Linked DNA regions of Homo sapiens. The protein of the gene in region 4 interacts with the protein of the main gene of each other region in a pairwise test. Each region holds a gene or a part of one and is shown on either strand. Other genes may lie near its edges.

The links.
Region 1: the proteins of REX1BD (region 4) and NUP58 interact in binary tests that used the Homo sapiens proteins (3 or more experiments, as listed by UniProt).
Region 2: the proteins of REX1BD (region 4) and DNAJB6 interact in binary tests that used the Homo sapiens proteins (3 or more experiments, as listed by UniProt).
Region 3: the proteins of REX1BD (region 4) and ICAM5 interact in binary tests that used the Homo sapiens proteins (3 or more experiments, as listed by UniProt).

The regions. Positions count from the first base shown.
Region 1 is NC_000013.11:25,339,625-25,342,921, reverse strand, and holds the end of NUP58 (nucleoporin p58/p45), read right to left. Parts: intron 2,958-3,297; coding exon 2,788-2,957; 3' UTR 501-2,787; downstream 1-500. UniProt on the Homo sapiens protein: Component of the nuclear pore complex, a complex required for the trafficking across the nuclear membrane.
Region 2 is NC_000007.14:157,339,972-157,347,027, forward strand, and holds part of DNAJB6 (dnaJ homolog subfamily B member 6), read left to right. Parts: intron 1-7,056. UniProt on the Homo sapiens protein: Has a stimulatory effect on the ATPase activity of HSP70 in a dose-dependent and time-dependent manner and hence acts as a co-chaperone of HSP70. Plays an indispensable role in the organization of KRT8/KRT18 filaments.
Region 3 is NC_000019.10:10,292,947-10,297,329, forward strand, and holds the end of ICAM5 (intercellular adhesion molecule 5 precursor), read left to right. Parts: intron 1-51; coding exon 52-300; intron 301-751; coding exon 752-997; intron 998-1,093; coding exon 1,094-1,372; intron 1,373-1,454; coding exon 1,455-1,694; intron 1,695-2,399; coding exon 2,400-2,666; intron 2,667-3,392; coding exon 3,393-3,670; 3' UTR 3,671-3,832; downstream 3,833-4,383. UniProt on the Homo sapiens protein: ICAM proteins are ligands for the leukocyte adhesion protein LFA-1 (integrin alpha-L/beta-2).
Region 4 is NC_000019.10:18,583,984-18,591,811, forward strand, and holds the start of REX1BD (required for excision 1-B domain-containing protein), read left to right. Parts: upstream 1-4,814; 5' UTR 4,815-4,818; coding exon 4,819-4,917; intron 4,918-5,010; exon of another isoform or gene 5,011-5,011; coding exon 5,012-5,094; exon of another isoform or gene 5,095-5,211; coding exon of another isoform or gene 5,212-5,429; coding exon 5,430-5,700; intron 5,701-6,870; coding exon 6,871-6,950; intron 6,951-7,828.

The DNA.
Region 1 (3,297 bases), on a different chromosome or scaffold from region 4:
CACAGAAAGATGCTGATGATATACTAATAGAAGGGAAAAAGAACAAGTCCAGAACACAAACTTTTTAACCTATTTGTTAAAAAAGTAAAGAGGGATCCAAGAGAATAAAATGTGATAAAAAATCAGAGAGAATATAAAAGAAAAAGAAAAGAGAAGTAACATTTATATATTCTTTTAAGACATATTTAAAAGGGTCTACAAGGATACATATCAAACCATCAGACTGCACACTAGGAAATGGAAGGGAATTAGGGCCCAAAAGTTCAAAGGGATTTTTCCTTTTTTACTCAATATTATTCTTTATAACTAAAAATGTTCACTGTTTTTGTCATTTTGAGAAGACAAAAGCAAGTGAGAAATAATTTACTATCTTATGTTCACTCTTCTGTTTAAAAAAGAGCAAGATGTATAAACCAATGAAGGGAATATACTAAAACCCAACCGGAGACTAAAAGAGCAATAATAAAATTACATATTAAGAACAGCTACTGACACCTATAAAGAATCAAAGCAACTGACACAATAAATTTTATTGTTTCCATAATAATAGGCTCTGGACAAAGACAATGGAGACAATGACAACACATTTAAACTCCTATAACAAATTAATCTGTTACAAATTTCCAGTGGCTCAACATATTAAAATGCAAAACATATAAAGAAAAAAACAAGAAATATAAATATTCAGATTTTTGCAGTACAATGAAATGTCTTTTAAAAAAAGTTTGTTGTAATTGTGTATGTAATTCTGACAGTAATTCAAAACACAAAATCACACATTTTCCCTAACTTCCCATGTTCTGGATCTGGGGACTGCAATATTACAGAAATATGCAAAAATAAGTTTAGTGCTCAGAGATAAATAATTTTCCTTATTTCAATGCATCAATGCGCAAAAATTTCAATTCAAAAAAGCCAACCACTGCTATATGCAGATAAATAAAACATTTGACAACACTTTTATAATCAAACCCAACATTATACAAAAAATGTGTGGCACATGCACATACGTGTGCATATGTGTATGCAATGCCTATTTTAGAAAAAAGGTGTCTTGATGAAAATGATTTTGAAAATAGTCACTGACACACATTATATACAAAACCTTTTATATAAAAAATTAAACTATTTTCAATGAAATTCCATGTTCACATCCTATCTGAAAATTGCAATTGAATCATAAATAGGTCTACTAACGAAATCATGGCTAAGGCAGTTCTCTTTCCAAGGGTTTTCTTTTATATCCACCTGATGTCACTAATACTAATGTAGTCAAATATACAGATGCAACCTGACATGCCTATGCGTTATTACCTGGAGCTCTGTTCACTGTTATAATGGGAGAATTTACAGTTGCTACAAAGAATATTTTTCTTTTTTAAAATATACTGGTTTCTCTATTCCAAATTAAGCACTTACTTAAGACATTAAGAGGCTGAGAAGCCACTCCATTTGGTGTCAATATCAATAGCCCTATAAGAAAGAACTCTGTATTGGAATAGCTAGAAAAGTTCTCACTAAAGTGAGAACTTTAGTGCATCCTTCACCTGCATAGAATCAGTTTGGCTAATAGCTCTTTGCCCCAGAACACCAGTCTGGAGTTCAAATAGGCTCCTGAAAGTTCATCTCAGATAAGAAAAAAACATCTCACAGAAGCAATGTAAGGACACACAGGATAATAAAATGGTTAAAATCTGTTTGATGAGTCTTACTTACAGCATTCCTCATTTGGAGGAGCTGCTATAGGTTAAGGTGGAAACAAAAATGGAAAAGATCAGGGGCAATAAAGTTGAGTTGGCCAAGTATTTACGCCAGTAACCATTTCAATAAGTCTTTAAGCAAACAACTGCAATGACCTGGTACCTCTAAGCTCATCATTCTACAAGCACTGAGGATATGAAGCTTAAAAGGTGAAAACTTGAATACCCTTAGAAAAGGGGAACAGTCTGAGGCAAAAGTTGTAGGCCTGTAAATATATATTTTATTTTATTTTCATCTTTTTTGAGACGGAGTTTTGCTCTTGTTGCCCAGGCTGGAGTGCAGTGGTGTGATCTCGGCTCACTGCAACCCCCACCTCCCGGCTTCAAGTGATTCTCGTGCCTCAGCCTCCCGAGTAGCTGGGATTATAGGTACCCGCCACTATGCCCAGCTAATTTTTGTATTTTTCGTAGAGATGGGGTTTCACCATGTCAGGCTGGTCTCAAACTCCTGACCTCAGGTGATCCGCCTGCCTCGGCCTCCCAAAGTGCTGGGATTACAGGCGTGAGCCACCACGCCTGGCGTAAATATGTATTTTATATGCACACACAACTGTGTGTATTATTCTGTATATATTTACATACATATTCACAAGATGCCCTGCAGTATAATTCAAAAGGCCTTTAACAAGGAACAAATTGATTCTAGTATAGGCCCTAGAGTTCACACCACCTGTATAAGAAACAAATGTGCATGTATTCACATAATGTAAACCTCATCAACAAAAACACTAGGTTAAATAGTAAGTTTTAGGTTAATGGTTTCTAACCATTACCAATCAGTGATGTAATCAGAACATTTCTTACACTGAGAATCAAATTAAAAAGAAAACACAGCTGGACTTTAAATTCCACAAGAAAAAAGATGTTCAGTATGGCAAACATGAAGAAAGTTCAAATTCCAGAGTAGGGAAAAATATCAAAACTTTATAAATCTCCTGGGATGCAATTTAATTACTGCATCATTAGAAAAATAGACTCATAGAATGAACGGTGCTGCTATGGATTCTCTCAACACATCAACCCATGTTTATCTTTTTCCTCTTTTGTTTCCAGCTGGAGGTTTCTTCAACTGAAGGAGTTGTCCTCCTGTTCCAAAACCTGCAGAGGCAGGATTGGACACCCCAAAAGTCAAACCAGCTGATGCCGTGATGCCAGGATTGCTGAAGTTAAACCCAGATGTACTTGAGCTGCCAAAGCCTTATGTTTAGGGAAAAAAATATTCATATCAGAAGTTGAATTCCAAAAACAAATATAAAAACAGGGAGGAGCAGTAAATTTCTATCTAAAAGAATACATAATCTGTAAGAATAGCAAATATATTAAAGCCCTAAATTTCTAACATGAAATTTTAACAGGAAAATAATATAGCTAACAACTAAGTGGCACCCTGAAAGAGAGTGTAGTGATGCAGGTCAAAAGAGAAACCTTAGCACAAATTACTAAAATCTATATAAACTTCAAGTTGCCAGAAACTTTCCTGTTAATTAAATATGTCAAGGTGCCTTCCTCCTTAGACCCACCAAAAACATTTTATCAA
Region 2 (7,056 bases), on a different chromosome or scaffold from region 4:
GTATTTTTAGTCATCCTGAACGTGTCGCTGTGGACTGGGTGTCACCGCGGGACCGCACAGACACCTTACTGTCGTCTGCTGTAAAGGTCAGCTTCTATATTGGTTAATGCTTACAGATATCTGTTGAGGAATAAGAGAATGTAATTAGCCTTTGTATTTGTGAGTTGACGTTTTGACGGGATTTTTACTTCTTAGTATTTATTTGCATCGAGGTTACACACTGGATTAACAGCGTTTTTTGGAAACCTTTTTAAAACTTTTTCATTTCCTCAGAAATGATTCTGTTCAAAATGTGGTTTGGTTAAATTTGTGCAGGACCCCACCTGGTGGTGAGAGGCGGGTAACTGCAGGCTCATTAGCGAGTAAGAGTAGGATCAGTGGCAGGATTTAGCAAATGGTGTAGTTCAAGGATGAATAGAATTTGAGAATATCAAACTCAAAAAAATGAGGTTAATGAGAAGAAGAGCAAAGTTGGTGAAAACAAGAATATGTTAGAAACGATGATGTAGGAATGGAAAAACGACAACGCCTACCTGCAGAAAAGTCAACTAGTAAAAATGTGATTTTTTTTTTTGTATTGATATTAATGAGGTGTTTTGTCAAACAAAACCCTTTATGTTTTTGTATGGACATAAATCACTGTTGACCTGTTTCATGTTCCTGGAGATATCCTACTTGAGAAGGAATATTGATTGATGATTAGTTGACTGACTGATTTACTTGAGATGGAGTCCTTGCTCTGTGTCCCAGGCTGGAGTGCAGTGGCGCGGTCTTGGCTCACTGCACTCCTGGGTTCAAGCCATTCTCCTGCTTCAGCCTGCCAGGTAGCTGGGATGACAGGCGCGTGTCACCACGCCTGGCTAATTTTTGTATTTTTAGTAGAGACGGTTTCACCATGTTGGTCAGGCTGGTCTCGAACACCTGACCTCAGGTGATCCCCTGCCTCCGCCTCCCAAAGTGCTGGGATTACAGGCGTGACCCACCGCACCTGGCTGTGTGTGTGTGTGTGTGTGTGTGTGTGTGTGTGCGCGCGCGCAGGTGGAATCACCCTGTGTGCCCAGGCTGGTCTCGAACTCCTGGCCTCAAGTGAGTCTTTCATCCCGGCCTGTCAAAGTGCTAGAATTACAAGTGTGAGCCAGGTGCCTGGCCAGATTTTAGATTTTTTTGTTGTTGTTGAGATGGAATCTCATATTGCCCAGGCTGGATGCAGTGGCGCCATCTCGGCTCACTGCAACCTCTGCCGCACGGGTTCAAGCGATTCTCCTGCCTCAGCCTCCCGAGTAGCTGTGATTACAGGCACCTGCCACTGCTCCCGACTGATTTTTGTATTTTTAGTAGAGACGGGGGTTTCACCATCTTGGCCAGGCTGGTCTTGAACTCTTGACCTCGTGATCCACCCGCCTCGGCCTCCCAAAGTGGTGGGATCACAGGTGTGAGCCACTGCGCCAGGCCATATTTTAGAATTCTTAAGCTGTGTTGCAAAATTACGTGTCTTTGGAAGGGTGATTTAGTTTACACTACATATGATTTTTCCCCCTTTGATATTTTTCTACTTACCTTTTGCCACCAAAGGCTTAAATTAAAAGTGTGTTTTATATTTGTGTTGTGCATATATACGTGTGTGCTCTAGTTGGTATGCTTATGAACTGTGTACTAATACTTATTCCTCTCTGCCACCTTGAGATGGCATGTACCACTTGGGTGGGCTTTGAATCTGAAGTTATTTGTGTTTATAGGAATGTCCAGGACACAGAGTGCTTAGAAAGTATTGATTGAATTAGATTCTTTCTAGTTTGTGTATGTCCTGATGACCTTCCTGTGATTAATAATGGAATCCAGAATTCAAGAAAGTTGGAAAAAATAAGTTTCAGCAGCACTGGAGACTGAGTACTTAACCGAGTGTTGCTTTGTTTATTTTAGAGTCTCACACTGTCACCCAGGCTGGAGTGCAGTGTCGCGATCTTGGCTCACCGCAACCTCCACCTCTGGGGTTCAAGCGATTCTCCTGCCTCAGCCTCCCTGGTAGCTGAGATTACAGGCGTTCGCCACTACACCTGGCTAATTGTTGTATATTTAGTAGAGAGTGGGTTTTGCCATGTTGGCCAGACTGGTTTGGAAGCAGGTGATCCACCTGCTTTGGCCTCCCAAAGTGCTGGGATTACAGGTGTGAAGCACCGAGCCTGGCCCTATTTTATTATAATAATAATTTTTTTTGAGACAGGGTCTCACTCTGTCACCCAGACTGGAGTGCAGTGGCGTGATCTCAGCTCACCCCAGCCTCCGCCTCCTAGTGTCAAGTGATTCTCCTACCTCAGGCTCCGGAGTAGCTGGGATTACAGGCACGTGCCACTATCCTGGCTAATTTTTTTTTTTTTTTTTTTTTTTTTTTGAGTTTCACTCTTGTTGCCCAGGCTGGAGTGCAGTGGTGCAATCTCAGCTCACTGCAACCTCTGCCTCCCAGGTTCAAGCGATTCTCCTGCCTCAGCCTCCCGAGTACATGGGATTACAGGCATGCACCACGACACCCAGCTAATTTTGTATTTTTAGTAGAGACAGGGTTTTGCCCTGTCCAACTCCTGACCTCAGGTCATCCGCCTGCCTTGGCCTCCCAAAGTGTTGGGATTACAGGCGTGAGCCAGCGTGCTGGCCTAACTTCTATATTTTTAGTAGAGATAGGGTTTCACCATGTTGGCCAGGCTGGTCTTGAACTTGTGACCTCAATCCACCTTCCTCGACCTTCCAAAGTGCTGGGATTACAGGTGTGAGCCACCAAGCCTGGCCTATTATGATTTTTTAATGAAAGGGAGTTAAGCTTGGAAGTATCTAATAGGTGATGAGTGCTAGTTGAAGAAATGGTCTCTGATCTTGAGTAATGGGGAAATAACTTCTGTGTTTGTTTCAGAAATATTTTAGGACATACTGGATAATGAAATAAGTAGGTGATGTGTGTGATAAGGAATGAAAATTCACTGCTGTGGGTTTTTTTTTTTCCTACCTGTCTGTACTTTTTTTGTTTTTGCTTTTTTTTTTTGTTGTTTGAGACCAAGTCTCACTCTGTCACTTAGGCTGGAGTGCAGCGGCGTGATCTTGGCTCACTGCAACCTTTGCCTCCCAGGCTCAAGCAATTCTTGTGCTTCAGCCTTCTTTCTGAGTAGCTGGGATTACAGATGTGCACCACCACACCCAGGTAATTTTTTTTTTTTTTTTAAGACAGAGTCTTGCTCTGTTGCTCAGGCAGGAGTGCAGTGGCACTATCTTGGCTCACTGCGCCTGCACCTCCCAGGTTCAAGCAATTCTCCTGCCTCAGGCTGCCGAGTAGCTGGGACTACAGGCGCTCACCACCATGCCTGGCTAATTTTTGTATTTTTAGTAGAGAAAGGGGTTTGCCATGTTGGCCGGGCTGGTCTTGAACACCTCAGGTGATCTGCGTGCCTCGGCCCTCCAAAGTGCTGGGATTACAGGCGTGAGCCACCTCACCTGGCCTCAGATGAATTTAGAAACCACTATTTTTTTTTGAGATGGAGTCTTGCTCTGTTGCCCCGGCTGGAGTGCTGTGGTGTGATCTCAGCTCACTGCAAACTCTCCCGGGTTCAAGCAGTTCTCCTGCCTCACCTGGAACTACAGGCGCCACCACGTCTGACTGGGTTTTGTATTTTTAGTAGAGACGGGGTTTCACCACGTTGGCCATGCTGTTCTCAAACTCCTGACCCCAGGTGATCCACCTGCCATGGCCTCCCAAAGTGCTGGGATTATACGCATGAGCTACCCACGCCTAATCTTTATGTGACGTGTTTTTTTAAAAGTCCTAAACTTAGAGGTCATTGAATTTATTGGAGAAGGTTATTTTTGATTAATGGCGATTAGGCTAATTTTTTTCATGGTTTTAATAGAGATTTTTCGTTTTTTTAAACTTGATTTAGATGTATTGCTTTTGGAAATTGCAGAAATTAACAAACCGAGTTTTCCTAAGAAATATTTTTTCTTAATTTCTTAATTGAAAAGTTTTCTATGGCTTCCTTAATAGACAGTAGGACCTAGTTAATAGTTTAAAGAAGTTTCATAATTGTTATTAGAAATGTTAATTATGGGCCGGGTGTGGTGGCTCACACCTGTAATCCCAGTACTTTGGGAGGCCAAGGTGGTCAGATCACAAGGTCAGGAGTTTGAGACCATCCTGGCTAGCATGGTGAAACCCCATCTCTACTAAAACAATACAAAAATCAGCTGGGCGTGGTGACAGGTGCCTGTAGTCTCAGCTACTTAGCAGGCTGAGGCAGGAGAATGGCGTGAACGCGGGAGGCGGAGCTTGCAGTGAGCCGAGATCCCTCTACTGCACTCTACTGCACTCTGCCTGGGTGACAGAGTGAGACTCCGTCTCAAAAAAAAAAAAAAATAGCCAGGCATTGTGGGACACACCTGTAGTCCCAGGTACTCGGGAGGCTGATGCAGGAGAATCGCTGGAACCAGGGAGGTGGAGGTTGCAGTGAGCTGAGATTGTGCTGCTGCACTCCAGCCTGGGCAACAGAGTGAGACTCAAACTCAAAAAAAAAAAAAAGTTAATTTTGTAGTTAGAGAATATCTTCCTGCTCTACGCAAATTCCCTTCCAGCCTGAAATTATTTGTTTTTTTATTTTTTATTTAAAAAAAAATTTATTATTTTTGTGACAGGGTCTTGCTCCGTTACGTAGGCTGGAGGGCATTGGTGCGTTCACGTCTCACTAGCATCGACTGCCTGGGCTCAAGTGATTTTCCTGCCTCAGCCACTTCCAGTAGCTGGGACTACAGGTGCACACTGCCACACCCTACTGAGTTTTTATATTTCGTAGAGACAAGATTTTGCTGTGTTACTCAGCGTGGTCTTGAACTCCTGAGCTGAAGTGATCCCCCTGCCTCAGCCTGCCAAAGTGTTAGGATTACAGGCATGAGCTACTGTACCCAGCTGTGATTTCTTTTAAAGTGCTACTTTACAGCACTGTCACTTTTATTTTATCATTTTTAACTTTAAAGTTTTTTGTTTATTTTTATTTATTTTATTTTTTGAGATGAAGTTTCGCCCTTGTTGCCCAGGCTAGAGTGCAATGGAGTGGTCTCGGCTCACTGCAACCTCTGCCTTCCAGGTTCAAGTGATTCTCCTGCCTCAGCCTCCCAAGTAACTGGGATTACAGGCGCCCGCCACCACACCTGGCTAGTTTTTGTATTTTTTGTAGAGACAGGATTTCACCATGTTGTCCAGACTGGTCTTGAATTCCTGACCTCAGGTGATCCACCCGCCTCAGCCTCCCAAAGTGCTGGGATTACAGGCGTGAGCCACTGCGCCTGGCTTAAAATTTTTATTTTTTATATATTTTGTTTTTTTCTGAGACAGGGCCTTGCCCTGTCTCTTGTCCAAGTTGGAGTGCAGTGACATGACATGGCTCACAGCATCCTTGATCTCTTGCGCTCAAGTGATCCTGCCATTTCAGCCTCCTGCATAGCTGGGAGTACAGGCATGTGCCACCCCACTCAGCTAATTTTTTTTATCTTTTTGTAGAGATGGTGTCTTACTGTGTTGCCCAGGCTGGTCTCAAGCTCTTGGGCTCAAGTGATCCTTCTGCACATTTCCAAGGTTGTTTCACTCCTGTGTCTTTGCTGTCTAGAAGCTTTTCAGTGTGATGTAATCCCACTTGTCTGTTTCGGCTTTTGTTCCTTGTGCTTTTGGGGGTCATATCCAAACAAAGATTGCTGAGGGGCCAAATTTTAAATTGTGTATAATTTTAATGACTTCAGATTTAAATAGCTGCATTTGGCTTATGGAGTCTTTTGAGCAGCATGGTTTTAAAAAGGTTTTTGCCAAGTGGGGTTCTAATGGACACCTATGCTTGTAGAGCTCTGATGTGAGTGATCTGCTGTAGAAATTACTTCTTTTGATTTAGTATATTATTTTAAAATGCAGGTGATGCACTGGTTTCTTGGTGAGGGAAGCTGGTTTTTCCTGGCTGAGCTTCTGTAGGGTGGAGGGCTGGAGTCCAGGCTCTCGCTGGGCAGGGAAGGCAGCTTGAGTGTGCCTTCCAGTCCTCCTGAGGGCCCACATTTTTCTGGGATCACCTGTTTTCTGTAATGTGCATTGAACACACGGGCCAGGAGAAGAGGGAAGTAGAGGAGCTTTGTCCTCTGTGCTCATCCTCACAGTGCTGGGCGGGCCAGAAGGATTCAGGGCCAACCTTAGGGAGATGAAGGCCAGTTAAAATGTTTTATTGCCACAAATGGTGTCTTTTAAGAAATGAATCCATGTATTTTACACTTAAATGATATTAGGCTACTCCGGGCACACTGCCTATGGGGTAGCCCTGCTCTGCAAGGAGTAGTAAAAAAAAAAAAAAAAAAAAAGTTAAAGATACAACTTAGTTTCTCTGTGACTAGGGAAATCGTCCAAGTATGTATCAAATAATGCTAATTGGTACCTAGTTTTATATCTTGATTAGGCAACTTTTTGCTTAAAATTGTTTTGGAATGCATTAGTATTTCTACAGCTTCAGGCTGCTTTATCATCTAATACACAGTTGGATATTTAATATATAGTTTTATCAGTTTTTTTTAAACACTGTTTTTGAGAGGTCTGAGGAAAAAAAAGATAGTGTTACCAAAAATACTTCTATAGGGAAATACTGATAGAAATGTATAGGTAGCCTTGAAATTCTGAGGTTAATAAAAAAATTTGAATGCAGGTAACCTTTCATGGAGTTTGTCAAATTTTAAATTGTGTCTTACATCAGTGATGACTGAAGCAGTAAGGAGTGAGCTTGCAGCAAACAGTGGGGATTGTTGCAGCATCAGCACTTCAGCCAGCTCTGCAGGTTTCCTTGGAGACACGTGGATTTCTCTTTCTAGACCTTCAGCTATTTTCTTTTTTTTCTTGTTTTCTTGAGATGGAGTCTTGCTCTGTCGCCCAGGCTGCAGTGCAGTGGTGCGATCTCGGCGCACTGCAAGCTCCACCTCTCGGGTTCACACCGTTCTCCTGCCTCAGCCTGCCAAGTAGCTGAGACTACAGGCGCCCGCCACCACGCCCGGCTAATTTTT
Region 3 (4,383 bases), 8.3 Mb from region 4:
CGGAGCCATTTCTTACGTCTAAGCCTCTGTAACCCCACGCCCTGCCCGCAGACGCTCCCCGGCTAGACGATTCGGACTGCCCCAGGAGTTGGACGTGGCCCGAGGGCCCAGAGCAGACGCTGCGCTGCGAGGCCCGCGGGAACCCAGAACCCTCAGTGCACTGTGCGCGCTCCGACGGCGGGGCCGTGCTGGCTCTGGGCCTGCTGGGTCCAGTCACTCGGGCGCTCTCAGGCACTTACCGCTGCAAGGCGGCCAATGATCAAGGCGAGGCGGTCAAGGACGTAACGCTAACGGTGGAGTGTGAGTGGGGGTGCGCAGGGTGCATTTCTATCTGGTTCAAGGTCTGGAGGGTGGCCAGCCTCCAGGGAAGAGTAGGAGTAGGGTATGAGGTGTCCCTTTGGGTGAGGTTTTGGGAAAGGGAAGAGGCTGGTTAGTGGGGTTGGAGAAAGATCTTGGAGGATGGAAGGGACCGGGTGGGCGTGCCCCTAGCCTAGGGCGTGGTATTTGGGCGGAGTCGTGGAAAGGCGGGCAGTCCAGAGTGTTTAAGTTTTTAGACGAAAAAGGCGCCACTGGTGGCTCAGGAAGCTCCCAGACAGAGTGCATGCCTCGACTAGCGTGACACCTCCTTGGATCGGCGTCCAAGGGTTATGCAGGGACAACACTTCGTGGAAGCCTTGCCGCGCCAAGGAGGGTCTAGGGACGTCAGATTTGCCCCCAAACCCCAAAGCCAACAATACACTCCCTCCTCCAGACGCACCAGCGCTGGACAGCGTGGGCTGCCCAGAACGCATTACTTGGCTGGAGGGAACAGAAGCCTCGCTGAGCTGTGTGGCGCACGGGGTACCGCCGCCTGATGTGATCTGCGTGCGCTCTGGAGAACTCGGGGCCGTCATCGAGGGGCTGTTGCGTGTGGCCCGGGAGCATGCGGGCACTTACCGCTGCGAAGCCACCAACCCTCGGGGCTCTGCGGCCAAAAATGTGGCCGTCACGGTGGAATGTGAGTAGGGGCACCGCGGAGTTAGGCAGGATCTGTGGGACAACCCCGGCTGGACTTCCTGGCCCCCGTGTGAGCCCCTGCAATCCTGTTTCCCAGATGGCCCCAGGTTTGAGGAGCCGAGCTGCCCCAGCAATTGGACATGGGTGGAAGGATCTGGGCGCCTGTTTTCCTGTGAGGTCGATGGGAAGCCACAGCCAAGCGTGAAGTGCGTGGGCTCCGGGGGCGCCACTGAGGGGGTGCTGCTGCCGCTGGCACCCCCAGACCCTAGTCCCAGAGCTCCCAGAATCCCTAGAGTCCTGGCACCCGGTATCTACGTCTGCAACGCCACCAACCGCCACGGCTCCGTGGCCAAAACAGTCGTCGTGAGCGCGGAGTGTGAGCGAGGCCCAGGCGGGTAGGGAGCAGGGGTGCCCCACGGTCCAGGCACTCCCTGACATCCCCCATGGCTGCTTTGCAGCGCCACCGGAGATGGATGAATCTACCTGCCCAAGTCACCAGACGTGGCTGGAAGGGGCTGAGGCTTCCGCGCTGGCCTGCGCCGCCCGGGGTCGCCCTTCCCCAGGAGTGCGCTGCTCTCGGGAAGGCATCCCATGGCCTGAGCAGCAGCGCGTGTCCCGAGAGGACGCGGGCACTTACCACTGTGTGGCCACCAATGCGCATGGCACGGACTCCCGGACCGTCACTGTGGGCGTGGAATGTGAGTGGGGGCAGCACCGGATGGAGGGGACACGGTCCTCGGAAGAATGACTCGCAGCGGTGGGAGCATTCAAGGGCACCTCTCCCAATCCCATTCTCGGGGACAGGGAATTCCAGCCTAAACCAGGGGGTAATGAAAATTCTAGCCAGGCGCAGTGGCTCAGGTCTGTAATCCCAACACTTTGGAAGGTTGAGGCGGATGAATCACTTGAGGCCAGGAGTTCGAGACCAGCCCGGCCAACATGGCGAAAACCCGTCTCTACAAAAATTAGCCGGTCGTGGTGGTGGGCGCCTGTGGTCCCAGCTACTTGGGAGGCTGAGGCAGGAGAATCGCTTGAGCCTGGGAGGCAGAGGTTGCAGGGAGCCGAGATCCCGCCACTGCACTCCAGCCTGGGCAACAGAGTGAGACTCTTTCTTAGAAAAACAGAAAAAGAAAATTATAGGGAATAGGAGCACGGCCCTCCTCAAATCCTGGATTAGAACACTGACCTGGGCTTCACCTCCTTCCATTCGGTGAAGAAGGGCGAGGAATTTTAGCCGCAACAGCAGCCTGATTGTCGGGGAAGGAGGCTCTGATAGGAGGCAGGATCCTCTTCTGCCCATCAGAGGCGCGGTGGTCTCCCATCGATCGTTGTGGGCCGGAGCAGGGCATTTGATCAGTGGCTGGGCCGGCGCTAAGCCCCACTTCACCTTCTGTGCCCTTCAGACCGGCCAGTGGTGGCCGAACTTGCTGCCTCGCCCCCTGGAGGCGTGCGCCCAGGAGGAAACTTCACGTTGACCTGCCGCGCGGAGGCCTGGCCTCCAGCCCAGATCAGCTGGCGCGCGCCCCCGGGGGCCCTCAACATCGGCCTGTCGAGCAACAACAGCACACTGAGCGTGGCAGGCGCCATGGGAAGCCACGGCGGCGAGTACGAGTGCGCAGCCACCAACGCGCACGGGCGCCACGCGCGGCGCATCACGGTGCGCGTGGCCGGTAAGTGGCAGCTGGGGAGAGGCGGGGCGAGGTATCTGAGAGGGGGCGTGACCTGGGTCTTGGGGCGGCCGGCCCCGCCTGCCTCCCTCTCGGTCCCGGTAGACTAGACGGAAGTGGGACAGAGTAGAAGTCAAAGGTGCCTTAGCGGGTGGGGCTGTTGATCGCACTTTGAGGGGTGGGAGATGGAGGTGGCAGGGGGACTGAATTCAAGGGGAGGGACCCTCCGGGGCTGTCACTGCTGCAGGAAAGGACTTTAAAACTTGGGCTGGATTCTGCGTGGTGGAAACTTGACCCAATTCACAATCCACTGTGGGGAAGATTGGGGAGGGACCAAAGTCATTGGATGTTGGAGGGAGAGAGGGGTCAAGATCGCCTTCTCTCACTTCCTGAAGCTCCTGGGGCTGGGTTCTCTCTGGGGTCGGGGGAACCTGACCTGGTCCTGCCGGTCCTCATTTTTTGGGGGATGGGGAGAGTTGACTTGTCGCCAGGGGGCTAAGTGTGGTCACGGGTTTATATCCCCATGGGCTGAAGTGCGATATAAATCGGGACTCGGGTCGCCCTGGCACTGGGAGTGGCCTTATTGCATGGGTTGTCTCCCTTCTCCCAAGGCCAGACAGTGAGCTCCCCGGGGCATGAGGACTGACTTCGTGCCTGTGGGAGTGCGGGGGGCGGTGGGAGAAGCCCCCCGGAGCTTGGCCACCCTCCGCGAGGGTCTCCACCCCGCAGGTCCGTGGCTATGGGTCGCCGTGGGCGGCGCGGCGGGGGGCGCGGCGCTGCTGGCCGCGGGGGCCGGCCTGGCCTTCTACGTGCAGTCCACCGCCTGCAAGAAGGGCGAGTACAACGTGCAGGAGGCCGAGAGCTCAGGCGAGGCCGTGTGTCTGAACGGAGCGGGCGGCGGCGCTGGCGGGGCGGCAGGCGCGGAGGGCGGACCCGAGGCGGCGGGGGGCGCGGCCGAGTCGCCGGCGGAGGGCGAGGTCTTCGCCATACAGCTGACATCGGCGTGAGCCCGCTCCCCTCTCCCCGCGGGCCGGGGGACGCCCCCCAGACTCACACGGGGGCTTATTTATTGCTTTATTTATTTACTTATTCATTTATTTATGTATTCAACTCCAAGGGCGTCACCCCCATTTTCTACCCATCCCCTCAATAAAGTTTTTATAAAGGAACTCCCTGTCTCCGCTTCTGTTTCTGCAAGGTGGAACAAGCCCAGGGTTCCAGTCGTGACCTCCCGAGTTATTCATTCAAAAAGCGATTTTTGAGAGGGCCTGGGGTGGTGGCTTAGGCCTGTAATCCCAGGACTTGTGGGAGGCCCAGGTGGGAGGATCCCTTGCACCCAAGAGTTTCAGACCAGCCTGGGCAACATAGGGAGACCCTACAAAAAATATTTTTCAAAAATTAGCCAAGGCCGGTCGCGGTGGCTCATGCGTGTAATCCCAGGACTTTGGAAGGCCGAGGCGGCCAGATCACGAGGTCGAGGTCATGAGATCGAGACCATCCTGGCCAATATGGTGAAACCCTGTCTCTACTAAAAATACAAAAATTAGCTGGGCATGGTGGTGCGCGCCTGTAGTCCCAGCTATTCGGGAGGCTGAGGCAGGAGAATCGCTTTAACCCCGGAGGCAGAGGTTGCAGTGAGCCGAGATCGTGCCACTGAACTCCAGCCTGGCGACAGAGCGAGATTCCGTCTTAAAAAAAAAACCAGGCGTGGTGGCTCACG
Region 4 (7,828 bases):
GGGAGATGGAGCATGCAGTGAGCCGAGATTGCACCACTGCACTCCAGCCTGTGCGACAGAGCGAGACTCCCTCAAAAAAAAAAAAAAAAAATCACCTTCATTGCGCCCAGGGACCACAATCCTCAGGGAAAGTCGAGAAGATTAATGAAACACTCAAAAGGCACTCAAGGAAATTAACACAAGAAACTCACCTCCCATGGAAACTCACCCTCTTGCCCATAGCATTATTAAGGATCCTAAATTCTCCCCACAAGATAGGACTCAGTCCTTATGAAATGCTATATGGACAGCCTTTTCTCACAAACAACCTCTTACTTGATTGAGAAACTGCCAACTTGGTCAAGGACATAACTTCTTTGGCTAGGTACCAGCAAATCCTAAAGACATTACCCGAGGGATGCCACCGAGAAAAGGGAAAAGCATCGTTCCATCCCAGGGATCTAGTATTAGTCAAGTCCCTCCCCTCTACCTCCCCATCCCTAGATCCATCGTGGGAAGGACCATATTTGGTTATCCTCTCCACTCCAACTGCAGTCAAGGTGATTGGAGTGGAGTCTTGGATCCATCACACCTGAATCAAACCTTGGATACAGCCTGAAAAACCCGCAGAATCATTAGCTTGGGAATCTAAGAGTCAGCCAGACAAACCTTCTTACACCCACGAGCCATTGGAAGACTTATGTATCCTCTTTCAGAAGGAAAATTAATCAGTGCTCATAAGTTCTACCTCAGTTCTTGTTTTAAAAACAGAATGTACTCTAACATCCTAACATTCCTTGCCTTTGCCCAAGTCTTAACCTTTCCCCGCTCAATGTCTTCCCCTAATCTTGAGGGAATTATTATTATTATTATTATTTTTTTTTTTTTTTTTTGAGACAGAGTCTCGCTCTGTCGCCCAGGCTGGAGTGCAGTGACGTGATCTCGGCTCACTGCAAGCTCTGCCTTCCGGGTTCACACCATTCTCCTCCCTCAGCCTCCCAAGTAGCTGGGACTACAGGCGCCCACCACCACACCTGGCTAATTTTTTGTATTTTTAGTAGAGACGGGGTTTCACCGTGGTCTCGATCTGCTGACCTCGTGATCTGCCCTCCTCAGCCTCCCAAAGTGCTGGGATTACAGGCGTGAGCCACCGTGCCCGGCCTACCTTGAGGGAATTATAAACATGTCCTCCAGGTTTTTATTTGAAGCACTTCCCAATCAGAGTAACTCATCCTGTTGGGTTTGCATGAACCCTAATTTCCCCCTTATATACAGCAGTTCCGGCCCCCCTCAACATATGGGTGGAAAGCTCTGAGGCCTCATACATAGCTAACACTTCTAAGGGTCCAGGATTTTTTCATCCTAGTGATAGGTCCAATTTCCCTGACAGGGCTCAAGCAGCCTTAAAAGCAGCCGCCGCCATTCTCCGACAATTCGCTCTATCAGCTATCCCAATCATAGGTTCTGTGGGCACAATAACCTCCTTCTCTTCGCCTCCACTCCTTTGTATCTCCCATCAAGTGTTCCCATGATCACAAGGTGTGGGACACGTGGCTGGCTGCAACTATAGCTTGCCTTGGATATAGAGTTCAAATATTCTAATTCTTACAGTACGACTACTGGCACCCCAATGTTTTGTGGAAATAAACATGAGTTCCTTGGAAACCCTATTTCAGTCACCTATCCCTTAAGATTTACCACCCCAAGCCAAATAATTCCCCCACCAGAGGCCAAAACAACAAGCAATTACTGCTGGGGCAGACTTCCTTTTGCCCAGGATATCCCCCTCCTGGGACTTGGTTCCTCTCTCACAGGCAAAGGGTTAAAAAAACCCCATTGCTTCCTGCTTCCTGTCTGGGGTGCGCGAGTTTTTCTTTTTGTTGTTGTTGTTTTGTTTTGTTTTTGAGATGGAGTCTCGCTCTGTCGCCCAGGCTGGAGTGCAGTGGCGCGATCTCCCTCACTGCAAGCTCCGCCTCCCAGGTTTGCACCATTCTCCTGCCTCAGCCTCCCGAGTAGCTGGGACTACAGGCGCCCACCACCACACCCAGCTAATTTTTTGTATTTTTAGTAGAGATGGAGTTTCACCATGTTAGCCAGGATGGTCTTGATCTCCTGACCTCGTGATCCACCAGCCTTGGCCTCCGAAAGTGCTGGGATTACAGGCGTGAGCCACTGCACCCAGCCGAGAGTTTTTCTTAATGCAGCTAGCCACCGGTTTGCCTTACAGGAACCCCATAATACGTCCTTGGCAAATTCTATTCAGCTCCAACTGCTAGGAGTGGCCCATTTGTCCTGAACCCTCAAATCATGGGAATGAGAAATGAATTTAGACTGACCACAGCCCTTATGAGTTTTCAGCTACAGGGGTGTATAGAACCCTGATAAGGAGTTTTCTTTGTGTGTGGAAGATCCTTCTATATTTGCCTCCCCACCAACTGGACAGGAACTTGTACTTTAGCCTACATAGTACCTCCTGTGACTTATTCCTTTTCAGAAGAGGCAGTAGCTGTGCCCATTCATGCTAAGCTTCAGCCGAGAGCAATCTCACTACTTCCTCTATTGGCTGGTTTAGGATTTACTACCACCTAGGAAGTGGACTCACAGCCTAGATGAAATCTCTCTCCAACTTACTCAAATCCAGGACCAAATAGACTCATTAGCAGCTGTGGTTCTCCAGAACCAGTGAGCACTAGATCTCCAATCTCCTCACTGCCGAAAGGGGAGGAACATGCCTTTTTCTGAACAAGGAATGTTGTTTTTATGTCAATAAATCAGGCATAGTGAGAGATGGAATTAAATGACTTCAGGATAGAGCTAGCAGACTACATGGTGGGACAACCGAAACTACCTCAGGGTTCTCACAGCCTGTTCTCCACTGGCTTCTTCCATTTTTAGGTCCCTTCCTTATGATTATTCTAGGAGTAACCTTTGGCCCATGTCTTTTCAGTTCCTTCATCCTTTCGTTTCTTCCTGAATAGAATCAATGAAACTAGAAATGTTACTGCAGATGGAACCTCAGATGACTTCAACCAGCACCTATTATCAAGGACCCCTAAACCAGCCTGCCGGCCCATACCCGGACGTTGACACCCAAACCACCTCTCACGAGGAAACCTCAGCTACAGAACCCCTTCTATGCCCCTATTCAGCAGGAAGCAATTAGAGTGGTCATCCTCCCACACCCCAACAGCAGTTGGGCTCTCCTGTTGAGAGAGGGGACTGAGGGGTGGAGTTGGCAGGATTTACTGGGCAGGTTTGGGGACTTTCACAGAAGACCCCTGTGACTCAGTGTTTTGAGTTCTTAACCAATCGAGTGAAGGATTCAGAATTAACCACTCCAGGCCGGGCGCGGTGGCTCACGCCTGTAATCCCAGCACTTTGGGAGGCCGAGGCGGGCGGATCACGAGGTCAGGAGATTGAGACCATCCTGGCTAACCCGGTGAAACCCTGCCTCTACTAAAAATACAAAAAATTGGCCGGGTGTGGTGGCGGGCGCCTGTGGTCCCAGCTACTGGGGAGGCTGAGGCAGGAGAATGGCGTGAACCCGGGAGGCAGAGCTTGAAGTGAGCCGAGATCGTGCCATTGCACTGCAGCCTGGGCGACAGAGCGAGACTCTGTCTCACTAAAAAAAAAAAAAAAAAAAAACAAAAAAAAAAAACACTCCAGAGGAGGATTGAAAAAAGAACCACTCTCAATGGACAAAAAGAAAGGGGAGGGGTAACATAGGGATATGAGCCCTAGCCACCGGAGCCAGCAACGGCAACCCTTCCGGGTCCCCTTCCAGCATGTGGAAGCTTTCCTTTCGCTTTGTTCAATAAACTGCCCTGCTGCTCACTCTCCTGGTCCGTGGACTCTTTTTGATCTGTAACACACACCGCGAAGGTCCACAGCTTCATTCTTCAAAGTTAGCGAGACCACGAACCCATCGGCAAGAAAAACTCCCAACTCACTAACAGCCTAGTCCCTTCCCCCTTAAAGGCTGGTGTCTGTCACCCCATACCTGAGCTGGTCCCTCTTCACTAAGTCAGGCTACCAGCATCTTCCTGCTCCTCCGGCTGGGCCCCTGGAGGAGGAAGCTTTCCAAAGCTCTGTCTAGCCCATGTATCCCTCCAGCAGGAAGCTCCAAGGCCTCCTCTGTACTTTGAGGTCGTTCTGGCCCCTGCTATGCTCCAGGCTCAGGGCTATTACACAAGACACCCAATTCAACTCGGTGGGCTGTTGACACCGTCCCTGTCACTGAATCTTGTCTTCACCCCTGTGATTCTCTGAAGAGCCAGTGAATCTCTGTTAATGTTGGTGGAGTTCCAGCCACTGCACTTTTTTTGAGGCAGACTCACTGTGGCTCCGGCTGGAGTGCAGTGGCATGGTCATAGCTCATGGCAGCCCCCAACTCCCGGGCTCATGTAATCCTCCCACCTCAGCCTCCCGAGTAGCTGGGACTGGAGGCGGGAGCCACCATGTCGGGCTAATTGGTTTTTCTGTAGAGATCGGGCCTCCCTAGGTTGCCCAGGCTTACTTAACACTCTTGAACGTCAAAACCCACGCTCAGTACCCGCTTCAAGTGGAAGTCGGTGTTGAGATACAAGCATAGGAACGAACTCAAGGCTAACAGCTGTTCTGTATTCAGAGCCGCACAATCAAGGAAAAACACGATCGGAGGCGGGCCCTGGACGGGAACAAGAAGGGTGGGCTTGACTGGGCGGCCCGCGGTCTTGGTTCCCCTTTCTTCCTTCTGGCTGGCCGGCCGCAGGGTAGGGGGTCCGTGGACCTCCCGGCCTGTAGGGGGCGTCGGGCGCAGCGGAAGGGCCTGCTCCGGAGCCTGGCCAGGGCTGCGCAGTCATGATCACCGAGACCGCGGCGGAGCCTACGGTCCCTGCAGTGCCTGCTGCTGAGGAGGCCACCGAAGCTCGGGGACGCGAGGAGCCGGCGTGGCCCTGGGTGAGCCCAGGCCCAAGCGGGAACGGGCGCGGGGCGGGCGGCGCAGACCCAGGGGCGCGGGCTTCATGCCCCAGCCGTGCCCCCTGTCCCGCAGAAAGACGCCCCGATCCGGACGCTGGTGCAGCGCATCCACCAGCTGCAGGCTGAGCGCGCGCAGGGCTTCCGCCGACTGGAGGAGTGAGTGGGGGCGCGGAGGGGCTCAGGGTTCGGTCCCCCGCCCGCTCCGGGCGTGGGCGTGTTCTCGGCGGGCGTGCCTGGAGGAGGAGCTGGGTCCTTGTGTGGCTGCAGAGTCAGATGGGGCGGGGATTTCGGGGCACCGGGTCCTCACCTTCACGAAAAAGGCCCCACAGCACGTCCCCACTACCCGACGACTCACTCTTCGTGGCTTCTCTCTCCTCCCCAAGAGCAGGGGTGGGCCTGTCTCGCGTTCCCCTGCGGGAGTCAGGAAGCGTCCTTCCTACCTACCAGTCCTCCCCTCTGGTGTCTGGGGACACTTCCTGGGGGCCTTTCAGGTGGTTGGCGCCGGTGCAGGGCCTGAGAGCCTGGGGGCGCGGCCTCAGGGTCCCCACATGCCGCAGAGGCCACCGCCAGTACCTGCGCAGCGGCCCTGACTACGACTTCGCGCGCTACCGGAGCACAGTGCACGGGGTGACCCAGGCCTTCGCCGCCGCCTCGCGGGAGGTGCTGGCGGTGGAAGCAGAGCTGGGCGGGCCTCGCAGGCAGCCGCTGCTCGCCGGCCACGTGCGCAGCCTGCAGGAGCTGGAGCAGACGCGGCTGGGCACGGTGAGGCCACCACCCCTTCCCCGCCGTGTCTCTAGGACCCTGGCCGGCTCCTCTCATGACGCACCCCTGGTTGGGGGGTGGTCCCAGTATCCCATACACAGACCTCACCCCTTCCTGTCCCACCCCAATCCTCTATTAAGGCTTCACTTGGGGATTCTCGGACCTTGCCCTCTGCTGTTCATCCCCAATTTTTTTCCCAAGTTTTGTCCTTATTCCCAGAGCACTCCCGCTTTCTCCCAGCTCCGCCTAAATGCTATTCCAAGATGCCCAGATCCCGCCCCAACAATGCTCCACCCACTCTGGTTGTTCCGCGTCTAGGGTCCCACCCTCAACCTCCCGTAGATACAGGCGAGGGGGGTCCCAGGCCACGCCTCCTCCGTATTATTCCTCCATCACAGCTTTAGTTCTTTGCCTATTTCTCTCTTGCGATCCGCCTGCTCGGCCCTGCAACCGTGTGTGACTGGAATTCCTAGGCCACGCCCCCCATGAGCGACCCGTCTCAGCGTCTCTTTGGCCTTTTTCTTTCTGGTGTTTTTTTTTTTTTTTTTTTTTTTTAAGACAGGCTCTTGCTCTCTTGCTCTCTCACCCAGGCTAGAGTGCAATGGCGCGATCTCGGCTAACGGCAACCTCCGCCTCCCAGATTCAAGCGATTCTCCTGCCTCAGCCTCCTGAGTAGCTGGGATTACAGGCATAATTTTTGTATTTTGTATTTTTTTTAGTAGAGACGGGGTTGTGCCATATGGGCAAGGCTGGTCTCGAACTCCTGGTCTCAAGCGATCCGCCCTCTTCTGCTTCCCGAAGTGCTGGGATTTCAGGCGTGAGCCACCGCGTCCAGGCTTTTTGGCCTACTTTTATCCTGGGTCCCCGTCCCTGGGACCATGAGGCGCAACCTAACCCACCCCTACGGCCAATGCCTGGCTAAGACGTCACTGTTGTTCCCAGGCCACGCCCACATCGCGCTCAGCACTGCCTCTGGCCTGCCTGCTGTCTCCTTTCTGAGAGAGCCTCTAAACTGAATTTCGGACTCTTCCTACACAAAGCACTGCCCCTCGTGGTTCTACCCGGGCACTGCCTTTCTGGGTGCCTCTGTTTTTTCCTGAACATCCTTGGAGGGCAGGGGGTGGGTTCTGCTCGTGGAGACATCCTTCGTGTTGCTCATTCCCCCACCAGGTGGCCCTGCTGCAGTTGATGGAGACGCCAGAGCTGGCGGGGCAGGAGGACGCTGTACGGATGCAGCAGCTGAAAATGAAGTGAGCGCTGCTGCCCAAGCCGCCTGGCTATGCTCGATTTGCACCAGGGTTGGCACGGTCAGGACGCTGCCAGCAGAGGAACCCTCTGCCAGTGCACAATGGTGTTCTCACCTGGTGGCCCTCAGATGTACACTTCCCCAGAGGGCACAGCCGTGAAACTTCACATCAGTTTCGCTGTGCATTGCTGGGACACTGCTGTATACCTCGACACATGCCAATCCTGCACACGTGGCTGTCCGTGGAGCTTGGACATGCCCCACTGAGCACAGACCTTCAGATGCCTGTCCTCAGCCCCCAAGCACACACACTCATGTACACACACATTTGACAAAGTCACACTTCATAACCTCCTAATGGTACACACCCCACCAAGATGGCCTTTTCTTTTCTTTTTTTTCTGAGATGCAGTCTCACTCTGTCACCAGGCTGGAGTGCAGTGGCGCGATCTCAGCTCACTGCAACCTCCGCCTCCCGGGTTCAAGTGATTCCCCTGCCTCAGCCTCCTGAGTAGCTGGGACTACAGGCGCGTGCCACCACGCCCAGCTAATTTTTTGTATTTTAGTAGAGATGGGTTTCACCATGTTGGCCAGGATGGTCTCGATCTCCTGACCTCGTGATCTGCCCACCTCAGCCTCCCAAAGTGCTGGGATTACAGGCGTAAGCCAGCACGCCTGGTCCTTTATTTTCTTTTCTTTTTTCTTTCTTTTTTTTGAGATAGAGTCTTGCTCTGTCACCCAGGCTGGAGTGCAGTGGTGCGGTCTTGGCTTACCGTAACCTCTGCCTCCTAAGTAGCTTGGATTACAGATGCCCGCCACCATGCCTGGCTAATTCTTGTATTTTTAGTAGAGACGGGGATTCGCCATGTTGGCCAGGCTTGT